Homo sapiens: one gene and its partners. The protein of the gene in region 7 interacts with the protein of the main gene of each other region in a biochemical or structural test. Each region holds a gene or a part of one and is shown on either strand. Other genes may lie near its edges. The genes, in order: SIPA1, INTU, RHPN2, SIPA1L3, PDZD9, LMO7 and RASSF6.

Evidence for each region.
Region 1: the proteins of RASSF6 (region 7) and SIPA1 interact in a test that uses a peptide from one of them, tested with the Homo sapiens proteins (one large-scale study listed by IntAct).
Region 2: the proteins of RASSF6 (region 7) and INTU interact in a test that uses a peptide from one of them, tested with the Homo sapiens proteins (one large-scale study listed by IntAct).
Region 3: the proteins of RASSF6 (region 7) and RHPN2 interact in a test that uses a peptide from one of them, tested with the Homo sapiens proteins (one large-scale study listed by IntAct).
Region 4: the proteins of RASSF6 (region 7) and SIPA1L3 interact in a test that uses a peptide from one of them, tested with the Homo sapiens proteins (one large-scale study listed by IntAct).
Region 5: the proteins of RASSF6 (region 7) and PDZD9 interact in a test that uses a peptide from one of them, tested with the Homo sapiens proteins (one large-scale study listed by IntAct).
Region 6: the proteins of RASSF6 (region 7) and LMO7 interact in a test that uses a peptide from one of them, tested with the Homo sapiens proteins (one large-scale study listed by IntAct).

The regions. Positions count from the first base shown.
Region 1 is NC_000011.10:65,647,890-65,651,936, forward strand, and holds the end of SIPA1 (signal-induced proliferation-associated protein 1), read left to right. Parts: intron 1-1,302; exon of another isoform or gene 1,303-1,364; intron 1,365-1,372; coding exon 1,373-1,591; intron 1,592-1,622; coding exon of another isoform or gene 1,623-1,671; coding exon 1,672-1,783; intron 1,784-1,867; coding exon 1,868-1,976; intron 1,977-2,060; coding exon 2,061-2,162; intron 2,163-2,248; coding exon 2,249-2,303; intron 2,304-2,511; coding exon 2,512-2,590; intron 2,591-2,679; coding exon 2,680-2,826; 3' UTR 2,827-3,023; downstream 3,024-4,047. UniProt on the Homo sapiens protein: GTPase activator for the nuclear Ras-related regulatory proteins Rap1 and Rap2 in vitro, converting them to the putatively inactive GDP-bound state. Affects cell cycle progression.
Region 2 is NC_000004.12:127,645,722-127,649,956, forward strand, and holds part of INTU (protein inturned), read left to right. Parts: intron 1-4,235. UniProt on the Homo sapiens protein: Plays a key role in ciliogenesis and embryonic development.
Region 3 is NC_000019.10:33,058,030-33,062,264, reverse strand, and holds part of RHPN2 (rhophilin-2), read left to right. Parts: intron 1-4,235. UniProt on the Homo sapiens protein: Binds specifically to GTP-Rho. May function in a Rho pathway to limit stress fiber formation and/or increase the turnover of F-actin structures in the absence of high levels of RhoA activity.
Region 4 is NC_000019.10:38,077,881-38,082,115, forward strand, and holds part of SIPA1L3 (signal-induced proliferation-associated 1-like protein 3), read left to right. Parts: intron 1-3,375; 5' UTR 3,376-3,685; coding exon 3,686-4,235. UniProt on the Homo sapiens protein: Plays a critical role in epithelial cell morphogenesis, polarity, adhesion and cytoskeletal organization in the lens.
Region 5 is NC_000016.10:21,994,336-21,998,570, reverse strand, and holds part of PDZD9 (PDZ domain-containing protein 9), read left to right. Parts: intron 1-2,069; coding exon 2,070-2,249; intron 2,250-3,262; exon of another isoform or gene 3,263-3,308; coding exon of another isoform or gene 3,309-3,333; intron 3,334-4,235.
Region 6 is NC_000013.11:75,634,930-75,639,129, forward strand, and holds the start of LMO7 (LIM domain only protein 7), read left to right. Parts: upstream 1-1,400; 5' UTR 1,401-1,728; coding exon 1,729-1,797; intron 1,798-4,200.
Region 7 is NC_000004.12:73,613,636-73,617,870, forward strand, and holds part of RASSF6 (ras association domain-containing protein 6), read right to left. Parts: intron 2,302-4,235; coding exon of another isoform or gene 2,256-2,301; intron 1-2,255.

The DNA of each region.
Region 1 (4,047 bases), on a different chromosome or scaffold from region 7:
AGACGAAGTATCCCTCTTGTTGCCCGGGCTGGAGTGCAATGGCGTGATTTCGGCTTACTGCAACATCCGCCTCCCAGGTTCAAGCAGTTCTCCTGCCTCAGCCTCCCTTGTAGCTGGGATTACAGGCATGCACCACCACGGCCGGTTAATTTTTTCTATTTTTAGTAGAGATGGGGTTTCACCAAGTTGGCCAGGCTGGTCTCGAACTCCTGACCTCAGGTGATCCACCTGCCTCGCCCTCCCAAAGTTCTGGGATTACAGGCGTGAGTCACCGCGCCCTGAACCTCTATCTTCATATGTAGAATGGGACCAGTTAAGCGCGTTGCTCCCACTGCTTAAAAGATCAAATAGCAGCCCCCACTATCTTTTTTTTTAAGTATTGGCACCCGCCCACCCAACACACACACTACACACTATTGATAACTTCCTGTGCTAAGCCAGGGGTAGGCAAACATTTTCTGTAAATGGCCAAATAATAAATATTTTAGGCTTTCTGGACCATCTGGTCTCTGCCGCAGCTACTCTGTCGTAGGTAAATGAATAAATAAATGTGCCTGTGTCTCGCTAAAACTTTATAGACACTGAAATTTGGATTTTACATGATTTTAACTTATCATGAAATATTCTTTTGATTTTTCCACTAGTTAAAAATGTAAAATCCGGACCGGGCGCGGTGGCTCATGCTTGTAATCCCAGCACTTTGGGAGGCTGAGGCGGGTAGCTCACCTGAGGTCAGGAGTTCGAGACCAGCCTGGCCAACATGCTGAAACCCGTCTCTAGTAAAAATACAAAAATTAGCCAGGTGTGATGGCAGGCATCTGTAATCCCAGCTACTTGGGAGGCTGAGGCAGGAAAATCACTTGAACCCAGGAGGTGGAGGAGGTTGCCATGAGCTGTGATCGCGCCATTGCACTCCAGCCTGGGCAACAAGAGCAAAACTCCATCTCAAAAAAAAAAAAAAGTAAAATCCATGCTTAGCTCGCAGTACAGAAACTGGCACATCTGCTTTAGAAAAGAAAAGGAAAAGGCACAGGCTGGATTTGGCTACAGACAGTAGTTTTGGGATTTAAGCAATTTACACGTGTTATTTAAATCCTCACAGCACACTATGAGGTTCGTACTATTATCCCCATTTCACAGATGGAGAAATTGATGTTCAGAGTGATTTGCTTGGGATATACAGGGGCAGCACTGGAATTTGAACCATGGTCTGGAAAAATGGCCAGTAACCAGGCAGACATTTTTCACTGTTGTCAGGATGCCGGGGAGCTCTCCTGCTCCTGGAAGTGAGCCTGGCGGGCTGGGGGTGGGGCTAGTGATGCAGGACGCTGGGGACTGGAGAAGTCCTGCCTGACCCTGTCCCACCCCACAGGAGTTTTTCGGAGCTGTACACGCTGTCGCTGCAGGAGCCTAGCCGGCGGGGGGCCCCAGATCCTGTGCAGGATGAGGTCCAGGGGGTGACCCTGCTGCCCACCACAAAGCAGCTGCTGCACCTGTGCCTGCAAGATGGTGGCAGTCCTCCAGGGCCTGGGGATCTGGCCGAGGAGAGGACTGAGTTCCTGCACAGCCAGAACTCGCTGTCACCACGCAGGTGCACACTCTTGGCCTTCCCTCTCCTCCAGGCCTCTGGGAAAGCGGCTTCCCTTTCTGAGCCACCCCTGCTCTCCCCAGCTCTCTGTCGGATGAGGCCCCAGTCCTGCCCAACACCACCCCGGACCTCCTCCTGGCCACCACAGCCAAGCCATCAGTACCCAGTGCTGACAGTGAGACACCCCTGACCCAGGTGAGCAGAAACCAGGCTCTGGAGCCCAACAGCACAGTGGTGACAGTGGGCATCACTGAATCTGTATCCACTTCTGTGGCACAGGACAGGCCAGGCAGTCCCAGTGGCTCTGAGGACAAGGGCAACCCGGCGCCGGAGCTGAGGGCCTCCTTTCTGCCACGTACCTTGTCTCTGCGGAACTCCATCAGCAGGAGTGAGTCTGGACCCAGGAGAGCAGGGGAGGGGTTGGGGGGTGCTCCTGGGCTTCCCTAGCTCAGCCTGCTCCTTGTGCCCACAGTCATGTCGGAGGCGGGCAGTGGGACCCTGGAGGACGAGTGGCAGGCCATCTCGGAGATTGCCTCTACTTGCAACACCATTCTGGAGTCGCTGTCCCGAGAGGGTGAGGCCACCAGGGTGCTGCGGTAAGCCTGGGCAGTGCTCTTGCCCCCTTTCTGACCTGCCCACCTGATCCCTTTGTCCCCACAGGACAGCCCATCCCAGAGAGTGGAGACCCTAAGGGAACTCCAAAATCTGATGCTGAGTAAGCTCCCCAACTCCCCACAGCCGCTTTACCTGCCCACATGACCCCCCCTTCGTGCCTGTCTGCTGGGGTGGAGCTCTGTCCTGGGCTCTGCTGCCACATATGCCTAGAAGACCAGCGGGGCCCCTCTCATTAGCTGGGGCTGGGAGTCAGCTGGTGCACTGCCCCCTGCCTTGGTCCTGCTGAGTCTTGACCCCCATGTCTTCAGGCCAGAGCCTGGGAACCTCTCAGAGAAGGTCTCTCACTTGGAGTCCATGCTCAGGAAGCTGCAGGAGGACCTGCAGAAGGTGAGGGGTGGGCTGAGCTTGGGGGGAGTCACAGGGCTGCCCCAGGAAAGGGGCTGGCGGCTCTGACTCCTGTCTCCCCGGCACCCCAGGAGAAGGCGGACAGGGCGGCCCTGGAGGAGGAGGTGCGGAGCCTGAGACACAACAACCGGCGGCTGCAGGCGGAGTCTGAGAGTGCAGCCACACGCCTCCTCCTGGCCTCCAAGCAGCTGGGCTCACCCACCGCCGACCTGGCCTGAGCCGTCTGGAACCACCTGGGCCCCTGAGGGCACTGTGGTCACACTGGGCCCTCCTCAGGAACTCTCCCTGCGCAGAGGCGTGTCTTAGCACTGCCCCCCTCCCTAGCCCCTTATTTGGTGGCGGAAGTGGCCTCCACCCCTTCCCTGTTTGTAAATATTCTGTGGAGAAAAGAGGACTTCAGGGAGTAAAAAAGCCACTGATGTCTGTGTCTGAACATGTGTCCAAGACAGGGCAGGGCAAGGGGTTTTGCCTCCAGAGGCCCCAGCCAAACTCCTCGGACCAGTCAGGACAGGCCCTGGGAACACTGGCTCAGAGATGGGCTGGCACTCACTGAGGGGTCCCTGAGGCCAGGCCACTGCTTGGCTTCTCTCCCATAACGTTTATTTGGTTCTGCAGGGAAGCAGGTGGCCACACCCCACAGCTACCCTGGCCGTGCATCACAAGGCCCTGTGCCTCAGTGCAGGCCTCACTCTTCTCTCTGAAGCCACTGAGCCCCCAGGCCTTGTCCTCTCTCTACCCACCTGGCCACTTCTTGCAGGGCCCAATTCCAGAGGCGGTGGCATCTCCGCCTCAGTTGACTGGGGCTGTTTCTATGTCCTGGAGGAAACGGGCCCTTGACCCACTTCCCTCCTCACCAGCCTATGGTCCTCTCTGTTCCTCGCGAGGCCAGGCCTTTCCCCGAAGTGGCATCATCAAGTCCAAACTTGGGACTTTGTCTAAATCCTTTGGTTTCTGGACCTGAGGCCCAGATAGGGCAGACTTGCCCAGCATCTCATGCCTATTCCAGTCCCTTCCCTAGGCTGGCTGAAGCTCCATGGTGAGACCTAGGCCCTGGGTCTGTTAACTTAGGTGCTGGCAGGATGAGCTAGGCTCGGAGAAACAGAGCATCTGAGGATCAGGAAGGCTTCATGGAGGAGGTAATATGAGGGCTGAGTTTTGAAGGCTGGGTAGGAGTTCACCAGGCAGAGACGTCAGAGGTATCCTGGTAGGACCAGTCTGGCTGAGGCCTGCTGGACTAGAGCCAAGGCACACCCAGGAACCCAGCGTCAAAGAAGCCAGATCAGAAAGGGTTGTGAAGGTGCACTAGGGATCCTGGGTTAGCAGTTCCCAAGACTGCCACTTTTTCCTGGTTGTGGACTAGTGTGGAAGGCTGTGGTCACTGAGGGTGTGTCTGCAGAAAACTCGGATCTGGTCTTGTGGTTGATGTTTGAAGGGAGATT
Region 2 (4,235 bases), about 54 Mb from region 7:
GACTAATTTTTTTGTATTTTTTAGTAGAGATGGAGTTTCACCATGTTGGTCAGGCTGGTCTTGAACTCCTGACCTCAGGTGATCCACCCGCCTCAGCCTCACAAAGTGCTGGGATTACAGGCGTGAGCCACCGTGCCTGGCCAACTGTTGTTGTTTTAAGCCTCAGAATTATTTGGATAGGCCTGGCGTGGTGGCTAACACTTGTAATCCCAGCACTTTGGGAGGCCAAGGTGGGCAGATCACTTGAGGCCAGGAGTTTGAGACCAGCCTGGCCAACATGGCAAGACCCCGTGTCTACTAAAAAATACAAAACTTAGCTGGGCCTTGTGGTGCATGCCTGTAATCTCAGCTGCTGGGGAGGCTGGGGCACGAGAATCACTTGAACCTGGGAGGCAGAGGTTGCAATGAGCCAAGATTGTACCACCGCACTCCAGCCTGGGGGAACACAGTGAGACTCTGTCTCAAAAAAAAAAAAAAAAATTGTTTGGATGACTTATTATGCAACAATAGATGACTGGAACAGGGGCTAATACATACTTACATTCTCTTGGGTCCTCTACTTTCCTTCTTGTGAAATGATAGGATAGAACTAAATATCTCTATGGTTTGTTCTTTTAGTTCTGTAAAAGGAGCCAGAATTCATTTAACGTGCCCCCCTTTCAGTGGTGTTTCCTGTGAGTTGGTAGTTAGATCTTGAGGCCTATCAAACATATTTTATAGGTGGTCTGTGTGCTTCCATCAGGAACAACATATTATCTGCTGTTTTTCTTTTTGTGATATTAACAGTTATTGATGATCATTGCCTAAATCCATTAATTCATTAAGGGACTGCAAAATGGTGATATTCCAATTCTGTCAGTCTTTCTCAATATTTCAGTTAGACTACTTTCATAAAAAGAAGCTCCCCCTCACCTCTGGTAACCTTGACATATGGTTTAGACAGGAAAGGCAGGATAAATGTCTGATTTTTCTTCATTTAACAGTTTTCACAAAAGCAAGTTGGTACCATTATTCAAGGACTTCAGAATGGTAGGTTGGGAGGGGCCTTAATTCTCTCTAGTTTGGTGCCCACATATTATAGACGAGGGGTTGAGATTGAAACTCAAAAAAAAATAACAAAATTTATTGTTAGTAAATGCATTGGCAGAAAACATTGAGTTTTGAATGTATAAAATGGCAGTATAGTAACTGCTTTTCAAAAACCAGATTCCCTTTCCCTGAAGTCAAATTTGGCTTAATTAAAAGGATCAATTTCAATTCACAATTTGATCTCATTTTTCTGTCCCATACATATGTGCCACTCCTTCTATCCATAAATCCCCACCTCTAACAAGCAAGCCTGATTTATTTTTTTCCTAACTGACCTCCAGATACACCTTGTGTGTCCATCTTTGCTTTTTAGCATTCGTGATTCCTTTTTTGGTGCATCACAAAGATTGCTTTGTATTACTAGGCTAGTGCATTCATCTTCTATTGCTGCCGTGACAAATTACCACAAACTTAGTGGTTTAAAACAATACAGATTTATCATCTTGCAATAATGTAAGCCAGAAATCTAAAATGGGTCTTCTTGTATGAAAATCAAGGTGTCCACAGGGCTACATTCCTTTTGGAGGCTCCAGGGAAGAATCCCATTCCTTGGCCAGCTTTCAGAGGCTACCTGCATTCTTTGGCTTGTGGTCCTGTCCTCCATCATCAAAGCCAGCAGCATAGCATCTTCCAGTCTCTCTCATGCTGACCCTGACACTTTTGCCTTCCTCCTATAAAGACCTTTATCTTTACCTGACGATCATTCGGATAATCCAGGACAGTCTTCCAATCTTTTAAGTTAATTACAACTGCAAAGTCCTTCTTGCTGTGTAAGGTAGCATATTCAGAGATTTCAGGGATTGAAACATAGACATCTTTGGGGGGCAATTATGCTGCCTACCTCAGTGGGGGGTTTTTTGGTAAAATATGAGTTTTTTTTCTTTTTGTGATAGTAATAATATACGTTCATTGTAGACAATTTAGAAAATACAATTAAGCAAAAAAGAAAAATTCCATATACCCAAAGACAACATTTTGTTATATATCCTCCCTTTTCCTACATTTATATACAATAATCTTTTGTCAAAAATAATTTAAGTTGTATATTCATTTTATATATAGTATAAACACAGCAGTAAACAAACTTTTGCATATATATTTTCATAGCCCTTGGTGCCTTATGTAGTAGCCCTTTAGTACACATGTTGTTTGATGTTAAGTATATACTGAGAAATTGATGGCTTTTCTCACATAATTTAACTTTACATTGAGGAACTGTGATAAACTGATCTCTTTTTAAAATATTTTATTTGGTTCTTAAATATATCTCTTAATAAAAATTTTCTCATATTTCTACCCAGGCCATTTCTTATTTAACAATGCAAATCAATCATATAATTCATTCCCTTTTAGCCTTTGAAATGGGACAGATCATATTAATGACTCCCGTGTACTTATGGAGAAAGACCTTTCCTTGGGTTTAGGATGTCCACTGCAAAGGTGCGATGTCCGGGAAGCCAGCCATCTCTGAGTCACTTCACAGAAGTGTTCAGAAACACTAGAGGAAAACAAATGTCTGGGAGAATGAGAAGTGGATATAATATTTATTTCATAGAATGGGAAAATTTTCTACTAAACATTTAAAAATATTGGGTATACTACACTTGCTTTCAGAATTTATTTTCATATATTTTTATGATGAACCATCTCCTCTTTTTAGAGGTTTGTTAGACTTGATAATTTTAGATAATACTCCCTATAACACTCAGCTACAGGAATGTATTCATTAGGATTTGGAGAAAAAAGTCATTTGGCACATCATCCAATGGAGTTTTAGTTTAAAGTAACAAATTTAAAATGTTTTTACTATTTCTGTGCCCTGAGGATAACAAACTATAGACAACAGAACTAATCATTAGGATAGTCCAAAAGTGGTTTCATTTTACATTGACACAGCTATACTGTGTCCATCATTCCTTTATTTTCTTTTAATCACTACAGCTATAAGTAATTTGATATAGTACTTTTGTTTAATCTCTTATATAGGAGAAATTAAACAGGCATCTTGTTGTGTTTTTTTTTTTCCAAGTGGACTTCAAGTTGAAAGTTTATTTTGGTCTGCAAGTTCTTACTTTTAAGAAAAGTTTGTCCAAAGTGCTGTAATAGTTAACCATCATAATGACTTGGTGCCCATGCTTGCAAAACTCCCATCTGAGTTGTATCTCTTGAGCATCTAAACCTAGTTCAAGCCTTCACAGTTGGCCTAAGAAAGTACTCCTGCTTACTCTGCACTTAACCCCATTCTCATTCAATAGAGTATCAAGGAGAGGAAGGAAAAAAAGGAGGAATAGCAGTACCTACAGTGGCAACATTTTCATCTGTTTGCCAACCCTACAGATGGCCAAGTGATGCCTAATAATGGGTTGCCTTAAAGGAAAGGAACTCTGAACTTAGGGAACACCAATCTTTTATAAAGAACAGTTATTAATAATAAGATATTGAGCACAGCATTGACCTTATTATACCATTCAGTAAACAAGCTTGACCTTTGCTCAGGATGGAAACATATCTCTGTTGTCCAAGGCTGTTCATTACACGAACGTCTTTGAAAAGACAGTCTAGAACAAAGACTCTCAATGCCTCGGCTTGTAAGATGTACAGAAACATGAGACTCATGAAGAATTATCTACCAACACGATTCTACATATACAGGTTGAGTACTCCTTCTTCAAAATACCTGGGACCAGAAGTGCTTCCAATTTTTTTTTTTTTAATATTGCATTATACTTACCTGTTGAGCATCCCAAATCTGACAATCCTAAATCCAAAATGCTCCAATGAGCATTTCCTTTGAGGGTCACGTTGGTGCTCAAAAAGTTTTGGATTTTGGAGGATTTTGGATTTTCAATTTTTGGATTTGGGATACTTAGCCTGTATACATGTTTATTATCCATCTTCCCCAAAGAATATTAAGCTCCCTGAGAGTAGAGATTTTGTCTTTGTTCAATTCTTTGTCTCTAGTGCTTAGAAGAGTGCCTGGCACACATTAAGTGCTCAGTAAATATTTCTTAAATGAATGGATGAATATGAATTATTTCATCAATTTCCTAATAATATATTTAGGAATGATGAGAAAAATAACTTTGGTATGTCTATATTTCTATTAATATAGCTCACTGGTATTTTGATAGTATCTTTAATTATGT
Region 3 (4,235 bases), on a different chromosome or scaffold from region 7:
GGTCTTGAACTCCTGACCTCAGGTGATCCACCCACCTCGGCCTCCTAAAGTGGGGTGTTTTTTAGATGCAGTTTCTCTGGTGTTGGATGAGAGAATCAGGGGTGCAAAATAAGAGGAATCATTGTTTTACAATTAAAATCATCAATTTTGAAAATGAGACCTTGTAACAATTGTTGTGCTACTCCATGTTAAGTCATACCAGTTCGAAGAGTCTATTTATCCTAGGAAAATAAAAGGTGTTGATGCTGAATCTTTCCTGATCTATGACCTGAGCCAGTTTGACCTAAAGCAAATGAGGGTCGGGTGTGGTGGCTCATACCTGTAATCCCAGTAGTTTGGGAGGCCGAGGCAGGCGGATCTCTTGAAGCCAGGAGTTCCAGACCAGCCTGGGCAACATAGCAAGACCTTGGCTCTATAAAAAATTTTAAAAATAAAAATGAAAACAAAACAAAACCAAATGGCCGAATGAAAGGCAGGTGCTGACCAGGCGTGGTGGCTCACACCCGTAATCCCAGTATTTTGAGATGCTGAGGCAGGTGGATCACTTGAGATCAGGAGTTCGAGACCAGCCTGGCCTACATGGTGAAACCCTGTCTCTACTAAAAATATAAAAATTAGCCGGGTGTAGCGGCAGGCGCCTGTAATCCCAGCTACTTGGGAGACTGAGGCAGGAGACTCGCTTGAACCCAGGAGGCGGAGGTTGCAGTGAGCTGAGATTGTGCCACTGCACTCCAGCCTGGGCAACAGAGTGAGACTCCGTACCCCTGCAACCCAAAAAAAAAAAAAAATCCCAGCACTTTGGGAGGCTGAGTCTAGTGGATCACGAGGTCAGGAGATCGAGACCTTCCTGGCTAACACAGTGAAACCCCGTCTCTACTAAAAATACAAAAAATTAGCCGGGCGTGGTGGCGGGTGCCTGTAGTCCCAGCTACTCGGGAGGCTGAGGCAGGAGAATGGCGGAGCTTGCAGTGAGCCGAGATTGCGCCACTGCCTGGGTGACAGAGCGAGACTCCGTCTCAAAAAAAAAAAAAAAAAAAAAGAAAGGCAGGTGCTGTCCAGGTGAAAGGAGAGAAAGAGCCCTTCAGGAAGAGGGAACAGCTTGGACAGAGCTGTGGACTTGTGAGTGCTTTGTAGGCCCCCCCAGGGTGTGGAGGTGTTTGTGGGAGCCAGGCAGTTCAGGGTCATGCATCTTGCTTGACCTGGGAACTGTGGAATCCATCAAAGTATTTAAAGCAGGACCAGACCTGTGAGATTTGTGTAAGAAAAAGACCGCTTTGACACGTGAATGGTGAATGGGTGGCGAATGGGAAAGAAGCTATGGTGGAGCCAGGCAGGGAGGCATTGGGAGGATTTAGCCCCTTGTAATACCTATCATCTTTGCCCTTCCTTCTCTTTTACGGACTACTGATGATGCAGTCAGTGACAGTGCTGTGAGTGGGGTGCAGTGCCTCACACCTGTAATCTCAGCATTTTGGGAGGCCAAGGTGGGAGGATTGCTTGAGGCCAGGAATTCAAGCCCACTCTGGGCAATAAGCAAGACCCCATCTCTATAAGAAGTTTAAAAATCAGCCTGGCATAGTGTTGTGTTCCTGTAATCCCATATACTCAGGAGGCCTAGGTGGGAGGATATCCGGAGCCCACGAGGTTGAGGCTGCAGTGAGCTGTTATCATGTCACTGCACTCCAGCCTGGATGACAGAGTGAGACCTTGTCTCACAAAAAACAAACAAACAAACAAAGAAACGGCCGTGTAAACACAGCCTCAATCACCCATTCTTTCCACCAGCTTGCACCCTTAGCTCAGACCAGGGGTCCACACAGAAGGCAGGGATTCTAGTGATGAGGAGGTTGGAATGATAGAGCTGGAGAAAGGGCAATATCTGGCAGAGAGGGAAAGAACTGATGTGATTGGCAGGGAAGGAGCTGCCAATGAGAATCCAAAATGCCTGCCTATTAGCCAGGTGTGGTGGCACCCAGCTATGGTCCCACCTACTCAGGAGGCTGAGGCAGCAGGATCGCTGAGCCTGGGAGATGGAGGCTGCAGTGAGCCGAGATCACGCCACTGCATTCCAACCTGGACAGCAGAATGAGACCCTGTCTCAAAAAAAACGTCACAATGCCTGCCTGAGGTGTCTGGTCATGCGCCTCCTCAAGATCCATGAATGCGGGTGAACGCGGAGGCTAGTGTGTAGACTTGATGGCCCTCATGGGATATCCATGTGGCGGTCCCAGCAGAGAGCCCACTCCATGGGCCCAGCAGCCATGCAGGCGCCCTGGCTGGAGATGCAGTTTTGGGTGGCACCAACTGGGAGGCAGTTGGGGTATTGAGTGAAAGGATCTGGGCTAGAAAGGATCCTCCGCTTAAGAGGTGGGTAGAGAGGTGGGAGGAAAGCCAGAAGGGTGGCCAGGTCTAGGAAGCTGAGAGGTCAGTCTTGTTAGTCGAGCAAGGCGTGACAAGTCAGAAGAATGCTGGAAGGTCCTAGATTTAGTTCTTTAGGAGTCGTTAGGAAATGCATGGTTGGAGAATTGGGGACAAAAGTCAGTGTGACAGGGTACAGGGGGAGAAGGGCAGGGAAGATATTGCTGGAGAAAGAGGGGAGCTGAGAAGAGAGAAGGCAGCTTTGTTTTAGAATGTGGAAGTCCAGAGCTGGTTAAAGACAAAGGTGTGGCAGGGCACAGTGGCTCACACTGTAGTCCCAGCACTTTGGGAGGCCGAGGCAGGCGGATCACCTGAGGTCAGAAGTTTGAGAGCAGCCTGGCCAACACGGTGAAACCCTGTCTCTACTAAAAATACAAAAAATGAGCAAGGCGTGGTGGCGGGCACCTGTGATCCCAGCTACTCGGGAGGCTGAGGCAGGAGAATTGCCTGAACCTGTGAGGTGGAGGTTGCAGTGAGCCGAGATCGCGCCACTGCACTCTAGCCTGAGCAGCAGAGCGAGACTCCGTCTCAAAAAAAAAAAAAATGATAAAAGAAAAAAACAAAAGTGAAGAAGTTGGGTGGGGAATGGCTGGAGATTCAGGGAGAAGGTGAGCTGGGGATGGGGCCCAGGAGTCGAGGCGGGGGGTGAAGATTGCCAACAGCTGCTGCATTGATTGGGTGGCTGAGCCAGCCGGGGGCAGTGAGTGAGAACCCATGAGGCTTCCCATCTTGTATTATTATTATTTTTTTTTGAGACAGAGTCTTGCTCTGTCCCCCAGGCTGGAGTGCAGTGGCACAATCTCAGCTCCCCGCAACCTTCACCTCCTGGGTTCAAGCGATTCTCATGCCTCAGCCACCTGAGTGGCTGAGACTACAGATGTGCGCCACCATGCCCGGCTAATTGTATTTTTTAGTAGAGACAGGGTTTCACCATGTTGGTCAGGCTGGTCTTGAACTCCTGACCTCAAGTGATCCACCCACCTTGGCCTCCCAAAGTGCTGGGATTATAGGTGTGAGTCCCTGCACCTGGACCTGTATTTTGACTATTGGGATTTCTTTGTTGTTATTGAGACGGAGTCTCGCTCTGTCGCCAGGCTGGAATGGAATGGCGGGATCTTGGCTCACTGCAACCTCCGCCTCCCGGGTTCAAGTGATTCTCCTGTCTCAGCTTCCTGAGTAGCTGGGACTACAGGCGCGTGCCACCACGCCCAGCTAATTTTTGTATTTTTAGTAGAGTTGGGGTTTCACCATGTTGTCCAGGATGGTCTCAACCTCTTGACTGCGTAATCCACCTGCCTCGGCCTCCCAAAGTGCTGGGATTACAGGCATGAGCCACTGCGCCTGGTGACTATTGGGATTTTATGCACACTTAAGGATCAAATGAATTTCCACTGAAGTCAGGCTTCTCTTTCATCCTGTTCTCTGTGTCATGCCTTCCCTCCCCTTTTCTTTAAAATGACATTATGCTCCATTCATCCGAAAAGGATTTATGGAGCGACAGCTCAGTGCCTGACCCCTCCTCAGGTTCTGGGGCATTCCAGACCCTGACTCGATACAGTTTCTTTGGCAGCAGTTCCCAGCAGGTCTCGTTTCCTGGAGTGCTGAGCAGTGCTGGGAATTGGTGCTTTGTTGGGATGGCTCCGGCCATGCTTGAAAAGGAATCAGCCTCTTGGCTTTTTTTGTTTCTGAAATGGAGTCTCGCTCTGTTGCCCAGGCTGGAGTGCAGTGGTGCACTCTCGGCTCACTGCATCCTCCGCCTCCGGGGTTCAAGCAATACTCCTGCCTCAGCCTCCCAAGTAGCTGGGATTATAGGCACC
Region 4 (4,235 bases), on a different chromosome or scaffold from region 7:
GGCTGGTCTCGAACTCCTGACCTCAGGCAATCCACTTACCTCGGCCTCCCAAAGTGCTGGGGTTATAGGCATGAGCCACTGCGCCTGGCCAATATTTTTGCTTTTCCAATTGGGAAATGTTACATGCAACTCTAGATTTCTGATTTCTGTTGGAAAATCAGATGATCTGACATCCATACTCCCGCAAGCCTTGATTGTCAGAAGATGCCCTGCCATCCAGGTCAGTGCAGGCTCCTCTTGGCCTCTCTCCTGTCTCCCTTAGGCAACTCGACCCTGAGGGCTTTCCAGCTTCCTCTCTCTTCTGTAGCCCATCCCTGTGCTGCCTCCCGGCAACATCTTCAGGATCGTTTGTGTTCTCGTGGGGCACCAGGAAGAGGGGCTCCCCCTTGCTCCCCACTCTCCACCTGCCCTCTTCTGGTGCTCACTTTTTCAGAGGCTTCAGGCTCCCCTTGCTATTTGCTCCTTGAATCTGCTTTGAGCTTCCCTTGTGATCTCTGCCAGTGCGCTCCATAACTGGGCATAAATTAGGAAAAGCCCCCCTACACATGCGCATACATGCACACACACACACACACACACACACACACACAGGCACACAGACATGCACACACACACACAGGCACACAGACATGCACACACACACAGACGCACACAGACACGCACACACACAGACACGCACACAGACATACACAGAGACACGCACACACACACAGACACACACACACAGACACATACACGCAGAAGAGGCCTGCTACTTTCTCACACAGGAAGCTCCAATAGCCATTGATCAAGAACGGCTGCATCCAGCTCTAGATTCCCAGGGAAAGAAAAGTTAGAGGTCACCTTGAACCAAGTGCGTGGCCCAAAGCAGCACTCCACTGCCCTGAGCAAAATCAGTTCCGTTGGCAGGAGGGAGCGGGCACGGCTGCTGGGCAGTCAACAGCTTCCATCACAGACGGCGACCCACTTTCCCCTTCCTCTCCAGCAGGATTTTCATCTTCTAGAAGTTCAAGGTGGAGACAAAGGGAAGTGACCCCGCAGGGTGTTTTATATGCTGGACAGAAGCACAGACTCCCTTCCCCAGGGGCCTGCAAATCAGGAGGTACTTACACCTCCAATTAGGCAGAGGCCATCTGTTCACTCATATGTATAATACTAAACGAACGTCCTGGACGTTCTAGATGGCTCACGCCTGTAATCCCAGCACTTTGGGAGGCCAAGGCAGGCGGATCATGAGGTCAGGAGATCGAGACCATCCTGGCTAACACGGTGAAACCCTGTCTCTACTAAAAATACAAAAAAATTAGCCAGGTATGGTGGCAGGCACCTGTAGTCCCAGCTACTCAGGAGGCTGAGGCAGGAGAATGGCGTGAACCCAGGAGGCGGAGCTTGCAGTGAGCCGAGATCGCGCCACTGTACTCCAGCCTGGGCAACAGAGCGAGACTCCGTCTCAACTGTTCTAGGCACTGGGAATGCATCAGTGAACAACACAGACATCCCTGCCATTCTGGAGCCAACATTTGAGTGGTGGACCTAGCCAGTAGACAGAACGAACAACTGCTAAGAAAAATTGGAAGAAAGTAGAGTGGGTAATTAAGAAAGGCTTCCAGAAGACCGGGCTTCTCTGTCTCTATAGGGTGATTTGGGAAGGTTTTTGTGTTTGTTTTTGTTTTTGGGGATTTTTTTTTTTTTTTGAGATAGGATCTCGCTTTGTTGCCCAGGCTGGAGTGCAGTGGTGTGATCGTGGCTCATGCAATCTCAACCTCCCGGGTTCGAGTGATCCTTTTACCTCAGCCCCCTGAGTAGCTGGGACTACAGGCACATGCCACCATGCCTGGCTAATTTTTGTATTTTTAGTAGAGATGGGGTTTTGCCATGTTGGCCAGGCTGGTCTTGAGCTGCTGGGCTCAAGTGATCCACCCGCCTTGGCCTCCCAAAGTGCTGGGACTGCAGGTGTGAGCCACCGTGCCCAGCCGGAAGTCCCCATGGAAGAACTGACATCATGGGAAGGAACCAGCCCCAAGAAGGACTGAGGAAGGATATCAGATGTCCTGGATAAGGTTTGGTGCATCAGAACAGAAAAGAAGGCCAGTATGATCAGAGCTTAGTCAGGGATGGGGAGAGACATGGAAGCCAGATCCTGCGGGGCTTGTGGAGCAGGGGAAGGAGTTTGGATGGTGTTTTAATGCAGTAAGTAGTCACTGGGGAGATCTCAGTGAAAAAGTGATGGGCTCTGATTTACCCAGTCATAGTCTGCAGTAACCACATGGATTTCTAGAGACATTCCTTCTGCAGCTTTCCTCCCCAAACTCCACTGGTGCTCATGTTGACTCATCTGTCATTTTCACTTCCTTTCTGGCAGAGTAGCTGAGCTGAGCAAACAACAGAGCAGGTGGACAATAGTCTGGCCTCTGCATGAAGCCACCAGTTCACAGGAAATACAGGGGGCAGAGGAACATGTTAAGTGGCACCTCAGGGATCCTGAAAGTGGGGAAATCCACAGGACAGGTGACCCCTTTCCTTCAACAAGTAAAGAGCATCAAAATAAAGGAAGGTGGCCATTGTAGAGTAGAGGAGACTTGAGAAAATACCTGCATAAGCAGAGGATGATTTCGAACAAACCAGCTCACAAAAGACACCTGCGAGACAATGATGGGAAATGTAATGCAGGCAGGGTAGTGCATGACATTAAAGAATTCTTGTTAATGTAGATGAGTATGATAATGTTACTGTGATTTTTTTTTTTAAATCTTATGTACTAGAGATACAAGCTAAAATATTTATGGGTGAAATGACCTGATGTCTGGCCAGGTATGGTGGTTCATGCCTGTAATCCCAGCACTTTGGGAGGCTGAGGCGGGCGGGGATTGCCTGAGGCCAGGAGTTTGAGACCAGTTTGGCCAATATGACAAAACCCCGTCTCTACTAAAAATAAGAAAAATTAGCCGGGCATGGTAGCACATGCTGGAATTCCAGCTACTTGGGAGGCTGAGGCAGGAGAATCATTCGAACCTTCGAGGTGGATGTTGCAATGAGCCAAGCACATGCCACTGCACTCCAGCCTGGGTGACAGAGCGAGACTCTGTCTCAAAAAAAAAAAAAAATGATGTCTGGGGTTTACTCTAAAACATTCTATCAGAAACAAAGAAGGTCACAAGGCTGGGTGAATAGATGAAATGGGAATGGAAAATAGTTAGTGGTTGTTGGAGCTGATGGGTGACTCAGTCTCCTCTCTGCTTTTGAGTATGTTTGCAAATTTCCATAATAAAAAGATTTTTTAAATGAGTAAGGCTGTCAAGAAAAGTCACATGTCCCACTTTCTGGGAGCAGTAACACGGCCATCGCAGCTCATATTTTCCTTTTCTTCCATTTCAGCATGGCGAGGACAACATCCTTGCTGCCTCCAGCTGGCGGGCGACCACAGCTACTGCCTGCTCTGCGCTACTGAGCCACTCGGTCTGGAGCCCCCAGGACAGCACCTGCTTCCTGAGGTTGTCCTGGCTCAGCTGTGCACAGCGATGGTGGAGAACTGGACTCCACAGGCTCACAACCTTCCTGTCAGGTTTCAGGGCCCAGCATCCTTCATCCTGGGCCTGGCTGCCCTGAACAATGGCTGAGGGCTGGGGGACCCCATAGAGTGACACCACAGCGTACGGGGCCAGCAGCACTCCAGTGCCCGTGGACTATGACCACCTATCGGGCCATCCCCAGCGATGGTGTGGACCTGGCAGCCAGCTGTGGCGCCAGGGTGGGCGATGTCCTCCCTGGGCCACACACAGGGGACTACGCTCCCTTGGGATTCTGGGCCCAGAATGGCAGCATGTCCCAGCCTCTTGGCGAGAGCCCGGCCACCGCCACCGCCACCGCCACCGCCACCACCCGCCCCAGCCCCACCACTCCCGCAATGCCCAAGATGGGCGTGCGCGCAAGGGTGGCCGACTGGCCGCCCAAGCGGGAGGCCCTGAGAGAGCACAGCAACCCAAGCCCCTCCCAGGACACAGATGGCACAAAGGCCACCAAGATGGCCCATTCCATGAGGAGCATACAGAACGGACAGCCCCCCACCAGCACCCCGGCTTCCTCAGGGTCCAAAGCCTTCCACCGACTCTCCAGGAGAAGGTCCAAAGACGTGGAGTTCCAGGACGGGTGGCCCCGGTCCCCCGGCAGGGCCTTCCTCCCCCTTCGGCACCGCAGCAGCAGCGAGATCACCCTCAGCGAGTGTGACGCGGAGGACG
Region 5 (4,235 bases), on a different chromosome or scaffold from region 7:
ACAGGCCCGCGCCACCATGCCCAGCTAATTTTTTGTAACTTAGAGACAGGTTTCGCCATGTTGGCCAGGCTGGTCTCGAACTCCTGATCTCGTGATCTACCCGCCTTGGCCTCCTAAAGTGCTGGGATTACAGGCGTGAGCTACCGTGCCTTGCACAAAGTTTTTTTTGTTTTTTTTTCAAGATGTACTTGTGTTTCTTGCCTTCCCGAACTTCTGCATTTGCTTATAGAGGTCTGGATCAAACTCCTGAGACATGTCCTTCTTCTGTAAGGAGCCTTTTGAGTCTGGCTTCTTTTACTTAACCCTGCTGACTTTTAAAAGTGGGCTCCTGGTAGCTTACCTTATAAGCATATTGAATTTACAAACTGAGATAGGAACCACTGGACCTTGCCCAAGATGTGACTTCTCTGTTTGCTCAGGAACCAGAGGCTCAGGCAGGGCGTATCCTGCCCCCAGTTGCTCCCAGAACCCTGAAAGGTCTCTGAAGATGGTATCTTGTTTATATTATGCTATTTTATTTTCCCAAACAGAGAGCATCTGTGGTTTGGGGGAAGGTGAGGTTGGAGATGGGCAAGGACATTTGCTTTAGAGGAAAGGGCCATGAACCCCTCCAGCTCCCCACAGCCAGAGGTAGGGAGCTGGGGGAGCCTCTCCCTCAGCAGTGGCCCTGAAAACACCACAGTCACATGGACTTGGCAAGCTTGTGTGTCACCTGTCCTTATGGAAAGGAGTTGTGTGTGAAATGCTGGAAAAGTGTGCTGAAAACAGATCTCCCCAGGAGCTTCCTGTGTACCGAAAAGGAGTTTCCTAGCAACTTCCTCTTGGGAAATTAACTTGTTGTTTTGAATGTCCTTTTAGTCCCTGAAATTTTTCTTGTGAGATTTGGTTCTGTAGAAAACATATTTCAACCTCTCCCACTACCCCTTGTCTCCAAGGCCTTCGGATTTTCCCCCATGTGCTTTTTGGATCCATCCACTGCTCATTTCCGCTGTCACTGCCATGACATGTGCCAGGACCCTGTCATTTTCATGTCATTTCATTTCATCTAACCATGTCCAGCTTTACTCACTTCGGAGCCTTTTCACTAAGGAAGTCTGAGAAGCAGCCTCTGTCTGGTTGGTCCTCGCTCCTCCTGCCTCCCCCTCCTCTGACAGGGACTGTTCCTTCCTTTCTCAGACCTTAACACAATTTGCTCCGGATCCACCTTTCTTTGCCTAAATATTTCCTATTGGTCCTTTTGGCCTTAATTCAAATTTTAGCCCTGCTGGAAGCTTGACCCGCCATCCCCAGATGAGACTTTGGCCCTCTGTTACTCATTCTCAGAGCCCTCCGTCCTTTTCTTTCATAGCATGAGTTACAGTTTGTTATCCAACATATATTTACATGACTGATTGATATCTGTCCCCTCCACTAGGCTGTAAAATTCATGAGGACAAGAAACACATGTGGGCCAGGCACGGTGGCTCACACCTGTAATGCCAGCACTTTGGGAGGCTGAGGTGGGAGGATTGCTTGAGTCCAGGAGTTCAAGACTAGCCTGGCCAATATAGTGAGACCCTGTCTCTACAAAAACAATAAAAATTAGCCGTGTATAGTAGCACATGCCAGTAGTCCCAGCTACTTAGGAGGCTGAGGTGGGAGGAGCCCTTGAGCCCAGGAGATCGAGGCTGCAGTGAGCCCTGATAATGCTGCTGCACTCCAGCCTGGGCAACAGAGTGAGACATTGTCTGTTAAAACCAAAAAACCCAACACATCTGTTTTGCTCACCATGGTAAACCCAGGGCCTAGCACACTGTATCAATAAATATTTGTTAAGTGAACAGATAATACTAACTAATATTGATTAAGCACTCACAATATGCCAGACTCTGCAAAAGCCCTTTAATGCACCCATTTAATTTTCAGAAGAGCTCTCCAAGGTGAACATTTTTATCCTCATTTTACTGACAAGGAATCTGAGGAACAGGGATTAAATAACTGTCCCAGGGATCTGGCTTCAGAACCCCAGTAGGTATGGCCATGCTTCTGTCTTGGTGAAGGACTGAAATAAGTTCCCCTCTTTTGGTTAGAAAGAGGAGTCAGCAACAAGGTCAAAACATCTGTACACAACTTGAGCAAAACACAGCAGACCAAACTCACTGTGGGTAGCCTGGGATTAGGCCTCATCATCATCCAGCATGGACCCTACCTCCAGATCACCCACCTCATCAGGAAGGGGGCTGCAGCCAACGACGGGAAACTCCAGCCAGGTGATTGCCCTTTCGCCATGCTTCCCAACCACCCATCCTGCCCATCTGCCTGCAGGGTGACTCGGGTCACCGGGTTTCAGTGTAACTATAAGGATATGACGGGCATGCTGGCTCATGCCTGTAATCCCAGCACTTTGGGAGGCCAAGGCGGGGTGGATCACTTAAGGTCAGGAGTTTGAGACCAGCCTGGCCAACATGGTAAAACTTTGTCTCTACTAAAAATACAAAAACTGGCTGGGAGCAGTGGCTCATGCCTGTAATCCCAGCACTTTGGGAGGCTGAGGTGGGTGGATCCTGAGGTAGGGAGTTCGAGACCAGCCTGGCCAACATGGTGAAACCCTGTCTCTATTAAAAATACAAAAATTAGCCAGGCGTGGTGGCACATGCCTGTAATGCCAGCTACTTGAGAGGCTGAGGCAGGAGAATCGCTTGTACCCAGGAAGTGGAGGTTGCAGTGAGCTGAGATCGCGCCACTGCACTCCAGCCTGAGTGACAGAGACTCCGTCTCAAAAAATAATTAAATAAATAAATAAATAAAATAAATACAAATACAAAAATTAGCTGGGCCTAGTGGCGGGCGCCTGTAGTCCCAGCTACTCAGGAGGCTCAGGCAGGAGAATCTCTTGAACCCGGGAGGCGGAGGTTGCAGTGAGCTGAGATGGCAGCACTGTACTCCAGCCTGGGTGACAGAGTGAGACTCTGTCTCAAAAAAAAAGGATATGACATTAGTTGAGAACTTTCTATGGGCCAGCCAATGGCTATCACTTATATAACTATCACTGTTGGGCATATTAATTCATTTAATTCTGGCTGGGTACAGTGGCTTACACCTGTAATTCCAGCACTTTGGGAAGCCAAGGTGGGAGGATCCGTTGATGCCAGGAATTCAAGGCCAGCCTGAGCAACACAGTGAGATGCTGTCTATATTAGTCCGTTCTTGCACTGCTATAAAGAAATACCTGAAACTGGGTCATTTATAAGAAAAGAGGTTTAATTGGCTCATGGTTCTGCAGGCTGTACAGGAAGCATGGCTGGGGAGGCCTCAGGAAACTTACAATCATGGCAGAAGGTGAAGAGGAAGGAGGTATGTCTTACATGGTTGGAGCGGGAGGAAGAGAGAGTAGGGGGAGGTGCTACACACGTTTAAACAACCAGATCTCATAAGAACTCACTCGCTATCACGAGAACAGGAAGGGGGAAATCTGCCCTTGTGATCCAGTCACCTCCCCCCAGGCCCCTCCTCCAACACCGGGGACTACAGTTGAACATGAGATGTGGGCGGGGACACAAATCCAAACCATATCACCATTTCTACAACAAAACGAAAGCAGCCCGGCATGGTGCGTGCCCGTAATCCTAGCTACTCAGGAGGCTGAGGTGGGAGGATCACTTGAGTGCAGGAGGCCGAGGCTGTAGTGAGCTATGATTGTGCCACTGCATGCCAACCTGGGTAACAGAGTGAGACCCTACCTCTAAAAAAAAAAAAAAAATTAAATTTACTTAATGAGGGTCAGTGAGATTGAGTTCCTTGTCCAGGTCACCTGTTTCTCCTAAGTGGGGATTCAGGGACCATGTTACTCCAGAGCTATGGCTCTCAGTGCGTAAAGATATTTTCTTTCGTAGGCAGTATTAAGCATTGCTAACACTTAGCTGCACGATCTCATTTCACTCTCACAATCCCTGAGCTAGATTCTGCATGAAACCACCTTGCAGACAAGGAATCAGATGTTTAGTAACTCTCCCATGGTCACTCTGAGGAGCTGGGATTTGAACCTTCTCTGTCAGACTTCAGAGCCTAAGGGCTTTACCAATACTGCCCTGCTCCTCGTGTCTTTGGGTGAATGAATTTTCCATGCAGTTCAAGAGGTGTTTTCTCAGTGCCTGGCCTGGGCCTAGTACTGTGCCCAGGAGTTGGGGAGGCAGAATGGGCTGGCGCCATGGTGAGAAAGAAAAAACATTGTGTTAGCTGTCCTGATTCAGGCTCAG
Region 6 (4,200 bases), on a different chromosome or scaffold from region 7:
CAGGAGACGGAGGTTGCAGTGAGCCGACACGGTGCTACTGCACTCCAGCCTCGGCAACAGTGAGACTCCATCTCAAAACAAAACAAAACAAAACAAAACAAAACAAAACAAAAACAAACAGAAAGTAAATACAATTTAAAAAATTAAAAAATAAAACCCTCCAGCAGAAAAGGTGATACATAAGGCAAAAGGCAAACAGTTGTTAAATACAGACGCTAGGTTTTAGATAGTATTCTACTAGTCTCTGCTCTGTATCTGACGTTTTTCTTCATAAAAACAACCAGAAAAATAAGAACAAGAGTTTGCTTTCGTTTCAGCAGAGTAAGAACCGGTCTTTGTCTTCCGCCAAAGATGAAGCCATCAACCTGTGGCCTGGATAGTGCCTCAGGAGCGTGGAGTGAGGGACCAGGGAGCTCAGACAGATGAGTAGGCTCCTTTGTGGAGACCTGATTTGAGCACTGGTGTGAAAAAGACCCGCGCAAGCCGACCCGTGTGCCTCCCGCCCCGCCCCCAACCCCCCGGCCCTGCACACCTACCCAGGGCCGCGGCGGATACCGCATAACCTGCCACCTCGCTGTCCCCTGAGTGTCCTCAAACCACGAAGGGTGGGAATTTTGACGCTCACCGCGAGGGCGATCATCAAACGGCCTAAACTGGGCTGAGCGGGCGGGAAGTGGGGAATGCAAGGAACCCTCCAGCTTGCTCGAACCCTCAGCCGCGAGCCGGGGTGGAGGGGCAGGGACCCTCCTTCCACCGCACCCACCTGGAAGCCGGGCGGAGCGGGGCCGAACTCCGCCGGGGGGAAGCGGCAGCACGTGCCAAGGCCACGACCCTCCTCTGCCGCCGGGAGGGCCCGGCCGCCGCAGGGGGCGGGGAGCGTGGGAGGGGACGGCGCTCACCTGGCGGCTGGGCCGGATCGCGGCGGGAGAGCGGGTAGCGGGCTCAGCTGGCCGGGGCTCAGGTGAGGGCGGCGGGCCGCGCTCCCCAGCGGGGGAGGTTTCTTGGCCGGGAAAGGTACAATTGTGTGCAGCTATTTCTGGTATGTCAAGCGGGCCGGGCGGCCGCGAGCCGGGAGGGGCGCCGCTCTCAGGGGCCCGGGAGAGGGCAGGGGCCAGGCGGGCGGGTGCGGGAAGGATGCGGGCGCGGGGGCGCATCCTCTCGGGGCGGAGCCGCGGGCTGTGCGGGAACCCCAGCGGGGCCCGGGCCGCGGCCCCTGGCGGACTGTGGCATCTCCCGGGCCAGACAGTCTGACCACAGAGGCGGCCGCGGCCGGGAGCCCGGGGAGCCAAGGGAGGGGCAGACGGAAGCGGCGACTCGGCGGGCCCCGGGAGGGCGGTGGGGTGGGCCGGGGCGGGGCCACCGCGGGGAGGACGGCGGCGGCGCTGCGACTTTTGAAGTCCAAACTGTCGTCGGGGCTGGTGCCGCGCGCTGCCGCTGGGCACCCGCTTCGCTTCCCGCGTCCTGCCTGACTGCCCGGGTCCCCGCGGGCCTTGGGTCGCTTTCAGGAGTTTAGAGAAAGCCAGGTCTTCACGTTCGTGTAGGTTCGAGACCTTAACGAACTGCAGAGCGCAACAAAGGGAACTAGAGCCCCGGCGCCTTCGCAGCCGGAGCGGAAGCCGGAGTTGTGGGAGGCCCGCGTGCCCTCCCCGCCCGTGGGGCCCAGACGCGCGGGGACAACCCCTCCCCTCCACGCATCCCGAGTCTCTCTCTCCCTCCCTTGTCCTAGCCATGGAAGGGCTGGAGGAGGCAGAGGCCAACTGCTCCGTGGCGTTCGCTGAGGCTCAGAGATGGGTGGAGGTGAGTGCCTTTCACTGCTTTCCCTTCCGCAGGTGTTGACTGCCTCGGGGCGGTCGTCGCGAGGTGACTGCAGCCCCAGTCACTCTGCACTTTAGCCTCCTTCGGCGACCCAGCCGACGTGAACAAGCTGGTTTGCTTGTGCACTTTTGGGGACTCTGCGGGTTCTGCCGCTCCTGCATCTTATGTCCCGCTTAGATTGGCGCTGCCCTAACCCCCGCCCCCCGACGGTGTCACTGGCTTCCTAGGGCAGAGGTGGGCGTTCGCCTGCCGGCATCGCGCGTCCCGGAGGAGCAGCGCAGTCCGCCCTGGCTCGCCCGGGGCGTCTCTGCGGGGCACAGCCCAGAGCGCGCGGTGCAGAGCTGGGCCAGGGCTCTCGGGTGCATTCCCTCGGGGTGCCTAGAAGTGGGGATGCTCACCTTATACCTGAGAAGCCAGTGTATTCAGTGTGGAGGGGGGGAGCGGAAAAGAAGGGTGGGTGGGAGGGCAGGTGGAGGAGGTAACACACCGAAGGCCCACCTGGAAGGATGATTTCTCTGGGGCCGCATCCAAGCCCAGGGGGTAGGGGCCGGGGCATGTGCTTTTTCATTTTCGGCTTTGATGAGACTGAGATCCTAGGATCATTCGCTGAAGAGCTGTTACCCTCCCAGCTGTGCCTCACAGACAAGATCTTCCATTCCCTTCTTTCACCCTGAAAAAGAGCGGGTCTCTTCATTAACGCCTTGGGGCTACATTTATCTGTAGAAGGTTAACATCAGGACTTCTAGCCGTTATTCCACTGGACGCAAAAGATGACTTTTAAAACGAGGCAAAAGTCTTCCAAGCAGATGTGAATCAGGAACAACTGCTGAAAATTGAGGCGTGCACAAGCCCTGCAGTCATTTAGGAGTTATTGATGCCACGTGCTGGTTTAGTTAACATATTTAAAACTTCGAATTAGGCTTAAAGATTATTCCACGGAAAAAACTACATGTTTAAGAATTCCAAAGCGAACGATACTTGAAAATAATGTATTTTTCCTTAAAGAAATACATGTATGTGTGTGGAAAGAAAGAATAAATTACATTTCTTACGCTAAATAAAGGAATGTGAAATGTGAGTAGCATTAACCACGGGACAGTAGGGAGGTCTAAGGAATGAGCTTTTAGTGTCTTTTTAGATTGAAACTTTGAGCTGGTCTGAAGGTGACTTAGAAAGATGTGAAGGGAGGGGCATGGGAAGTTGAGAGAAGAATAAACGCTGTATTTTGAATTGAAATGAGAGTGGAAAAATTCCAGCAATATAGTTAAGAGAAATAACTTCCCTCATTCATAAACTTTGAAAAGCCAAGACTTCCAACTGTAATTTTCCATTAGCAGTGTGTGTTCTGCATAATTTTAGAAAACAAACTTGCCATTTTGTGTTTGAGTGTTGGGGATTGAAGGAGGGAGAAGGGGAGACGTGGGGACATGTTTTGGTCATACATGGCTTCTGTGTGGAGTTTGCATCTGCGTGCTTTGTATTTGCTTCAGGAAACATGAATAGGAATGATTCCACACCCTTCCCTTTTTTTTTAGTATGCACATTTTGGAAAACGATGAATTCCTTTTTTGTCCCTGCTTGCTCATAATTATGTAGGTTTTCTCCAAGAAATTTGTATGTAATGAATGGGGGGAAAGTGTATTGTGATAAAAGATATCATTGCGCATATTACATGTGGTCTGTTTTCACTCTCATCGCAGTCTATGTAAAGGTGTTTATCAGCAATGATTTGGCACCTCTATAATGTATTTTGTTCATCGTTAGCAGAGAGCTGGATCTTCCTAAAGGTACTGTCATATCCTTTTAATATAGTTAATGAAATTAAAATTTTTTTTCATCCCACTTGGAACAAGGCAGTATGTTTGCCTTCATTGTGTATATATGAGTAATTTACATGTTCAGATACTTTTAGTATACTCTGGGCATTTGAAATGACCACAGTGTGCTCACTGTTAGGGCTATTTTGTTTCTCCAGTGTCCACATCTATCTCTCTTGTCAGCTTTGCCTTTGCCACCAAAGCACATATTTTAAAATATTGTTCTTGCCAAAAGAAGCAGGATGAATGACTCTGTCATCATCACAACCTCTTTAAGAACCCCTAATCTGAAGATAAAAGGTTGATTCCAATGTGTATTTGTAAAGTATTCTTTCCCCTGCTTGCTGATAGTCTTGCTACATTTTGCCCTATTCCTTTACACATTACTGAAATATAGGAGGGTTTTTAAGTGTATATATTGTATATGTATGTACATATATACATATGTATTATAATATATGTTCTATCTGTATTACATATATATTCGCAACTGCAGCTTTGAATACCCCAAAGTCAACTCCAATAACCTTGTAAAGTTTTGAATGATGACTGGACTCCATGTCAGCAT
Region 7 (4,235 bases):
CCTTGCCAAAGAGTTCACTTCTCTCCTCATTTCTCGGCCTCTTAGCAACATTTGACAAGATTGATTTTCCTACCTTTTAAAACACTTTCTTCTTGATGCTTTTGAGACAAACCATGAATAACAATCACCTCACTCTATTTTCCTGCTATCTCACAGGCCTCAACACTAGTCTCCTTTGCTGATTCCTCCTTTGTATGATCACTAAATACTGGCTTGTTTGAGTGTCCATTCTCAGCCATCCTTTCTTCTCTATCTATACATTCTTCCAGGTAATCGAATCTGTCTCCATCCCATAATCTCTGTTGAGCTCCAGACGCATGTCACCACCTACCTAATCTCTACTTAGATGTGTACCAGGCATCTCGATATCTACATGGCTGAAAAAGAACCACTGACTTTCTCCCATGCTCTAAAATTTCCTCCTCCACAATTCTTTCCCATCTAGGCATCAAAACTAATATTTAGTCTCATTTTTTCCCTCTTTCATCATAAGCCAAATTCAATCCAAAAGTAAGTCCTATTCACTGTACCACTAACATATTCCAAATTCGAAAGCTTTGATTTCCACTGCTACTACCCTAAGCCAAGCCACCATCATCTTTTTCCTGGATTATTGCGTCAGCCTACTAGAGGGCCTCCCTCTGTTGTGGTCTGAATGTTTGTGTCCCCACAAAACCTAGATGTTGAAACTTAACCCCCAATGCAATAGTATTAACAGGTGAGGACTTTAGGAGGTGATTAGTTCATGATGGTGGAGACTTCATGAATGTGGTTAGTGCCCTTATAAAAGAGACCCCAGAAGCTGCCTGGACCCTTCCACCATGTCAGAGCATAGCAAAAAGACCATCTAAGAACCAGACAGCTTGCTTCCCTCACCAGACACTGGGGATATTTGGAACTGAAGAACCACTGATAGCAGCTTCTTATAATTACAAAGTGAAAATTGGCAGTGATGGACTGAAAAATCATTGCAGTAGCTTTCCAACTGGCTCACTCTTTATTTGCATTCATAAGAAATATCAAAGATATCATTAAAGAGGGCAAATAATTGCAATGTAGTTATAGTGACACACTGTTGATCTATGCTGAGGTAACTCATAGCCAGCTTCAGAAGACTTCAGAAGATGTGATGAAAGGGTTTCCAAGGCTCTTATATTATTTTCTGACTTTAGGAAGGAAGAAAGTTGAATATAATTTAATGTAAGAAAATAAAAACAGGATAAAATTTTCATTCATAGGCAGCACATAATATTTGAGTAGGAAATAATATTATTCATGTCTGATCTAAAAATTGGGTAAATAAAATATTCAAACAGTTTAAATACCTGAAAGGTAAGAACATGCTTTGGTAAAAGTCCCATTGTTAGTATTAACAGTGAAGTGAAATACAAAAGTTAGCCGGGTGTGGTGGAACACACTTTTAATCCCAGCTACCTGGGAGGCTGAGGCCCGAGAATCACTTAAACCTGGGAGATGGAGGTTGCAGTGAGCCAAGATTGTGTCCCTGCACTCCAGCCTGGGTGATAGAGTGTGACTCTGTCTCAAAAAAAAAAAAAAAAAAAGAGCAAAACAAATAAACAAACAAAAACAATGAAGTGAGGCATAGATCTATGAATTCAAATAGTTTTTCATCCTCATCTTCCCATTCCCATTCACCATGATTCATAGCAAACTAAAACCTGCTAGGGCCCTTGTGAAAATCTCCTAAATTATAAAGACTTGGTAGATATAAGCATCTGAGCAAATTTTCTCAAGGACTTAAGAGGAGAATAACAGAGAAGTCATGAATAGCAACGAGGGAGAGAATTTATGAAGAAAGAAAAAATTACAGTTCTAGAAGCCTGGAGGTCTTACTTGGGATGTTCAGTAATTTTGGTAGAACATAATAAACTACAACTTGAGGAGGAAGATGGTTGTTACAAATCTATGTAGGCCCTGGGGCCAGAGATTATTGACTTAGATTGTGTGTAAAATAAGATCATTATTTAATAAGTTTGGTTATTTACTTTTTCATTTTGTCCAGAAACAATGAAGCTGGAGAAACAGGGAATTAGATAGGTCAGCAATTAAGTCCTGGAGAAATCAACAGCACTAGAAGTATAGGAGAGGTAGAATTGGTCTGAACAAGCCAATGAGATCTGGATGGAGCCTGAGGAGGCAGTGTTGGGCAGCATTAGCGTTCCAGCAATGCTGGAACGTGGTTCACCTCCCCCTGCTCTGCATTCCTGCCTAGAGGTGGGCTTGCCTGGACTTACCAGTTGCCTTGTGACCAGAATGAGGCCAGAGGACAGGAAGTGAATTCTAGTACAAATTAAATCAAATGGGTCAGTCATTTAAAGTAACTTCCTGTTATCCAACCATGAGTTAATTAAATGGTTACATATCTAAAAGTGGAAAATTGGGTTCACTCGTTTGTAAATTCAACAAATATTTCACGAGTTCCTTCTCTGCACCTGCTACCGTGCTAGGCACAGAAAGTATAGCCTGTATCTATATCTATAGCCTCTTATTTCTGAGGCCACAAGGTGCACAAAGTGTCATAATGCTAATGATTTTACAAAGAACTAATATATATACATATATCTATATCTATCTATCTATCTATCTATCTATCTATCTATCTATCTATCTATACATATATATACAGGTGCTAACTTCCCTGTATTTCCCAGCCAAAGACAATTTCTCTTGCTTCTGAAATTTCACAGGAAATTTTCTGTAGCTTTCTAATTACTTACTGCTTTCTCTCTCTAACCATATTTTATTTTACTTAATTTGATTACTAGGTCCTTTAGGACAGAATTATTGCTATTTCATTTTTGTGTCTTCTAAAGTGAGTGAATATATGCAGGCATATAGATAAAACATACACAAAATATTGAATACATCCAACATACAGAGAGGTATATTATAATATTAATGGTAAAATTAAGAGCTAAGAGATTATGTGTGATAATTATTTCTTTTTTTATTTTGTATGTACTGTCTAAATCATAGACAAGGAATATATGTTACATCTCTCTCACCCACGTCCCCAGTAAAAGCTACTTAAAAAAAGAACAGAAAGTATCACACTAGAATAGCAAGTGTGTATTTCAATTATGAGATAAGAGTATGTTAAGGGCTGTACACACGGAGAGTCTTTTTAATAAAATATTGTTTCAGCTTGAAGAAGCAATAGAAAGTTACAATTATGTATTCATCTCCAAAACGAAACTGTTTTCTCAAAGTTATGACCTGGAACCTTGGAGTAGAGAAGAGCAGAGTTATATGCAATTACATCACTTCAAGAAAATGAGACAAAGCATCTATAATTCCATCCAGTATCTAGTTCTCTCAAAAAAGGAAAAGAGTTAACAGAGTGATGGTTTCTGGGAAACATTTGGCTCCATACTTTTTCTTAAAATGTGCTTTATTTGCAGAGACAGTAAAGGTCAAGAGTTGGCATATATACAAACTATCACTTAATTAAGTAATATTGGTTGCAGTCAGTGATTGTTGGTTTTGAGATAGAAATAATGTATTATAATCATTGAATCTAAGAGAGGACTAAGCAGAATATGAATCAAACACACTTCTATGTGAGCATGCCACTGCCCTCAGTTCAAGTGGAATCTAATTGGAAATGCCAAAACTTTACTGTTCTATTGCATATTTACATGGTACTAATGCCATGCATTTTATTCTGCTCAAGGTGCCCTCAGGGAGATAAAGAAAGCAGAAACGGTCAGAGAAGCAAATTTGTATTAAGGCACTTAAGGCATCTTGCCACCACTGGGTCTGGGAGGCGCTGCTCAGTCTGCCGACAGCATCTTCTGGAATTACTGGTGTGGTGGAACTCAAAAATTTTCTGCTTCACCTGAGCTTCCCAGTAGAAATTCTTAGGCTGACGTCACAAAGATCACGACTCATTTTTCCTGTTTGTATATTTGCTGCAAAAGAATCGACACTCTCTCCTCTTAAGCTCCTTTACTAGGCTCTAGGTGATGATGAAGTTTTCCTTTAAGTTAACATCCTTATTACTTAAATAGGAGACACTTCATGTTCTACTCCTGAAAGCAGTGGTATTAGTTAAGTTTGGTTGTTGAGATTATGTTATGAAAGTGATGAAATCACTATAATTTATCATTTTAAACATACAAATTAATTTTTGCAACAGAATAACTCTCTAACTGTAATGTGAAAGGAAAATATTCAGAATTCCTTTCTCAGAGGTTTTGTTTTCAAATGGCCTA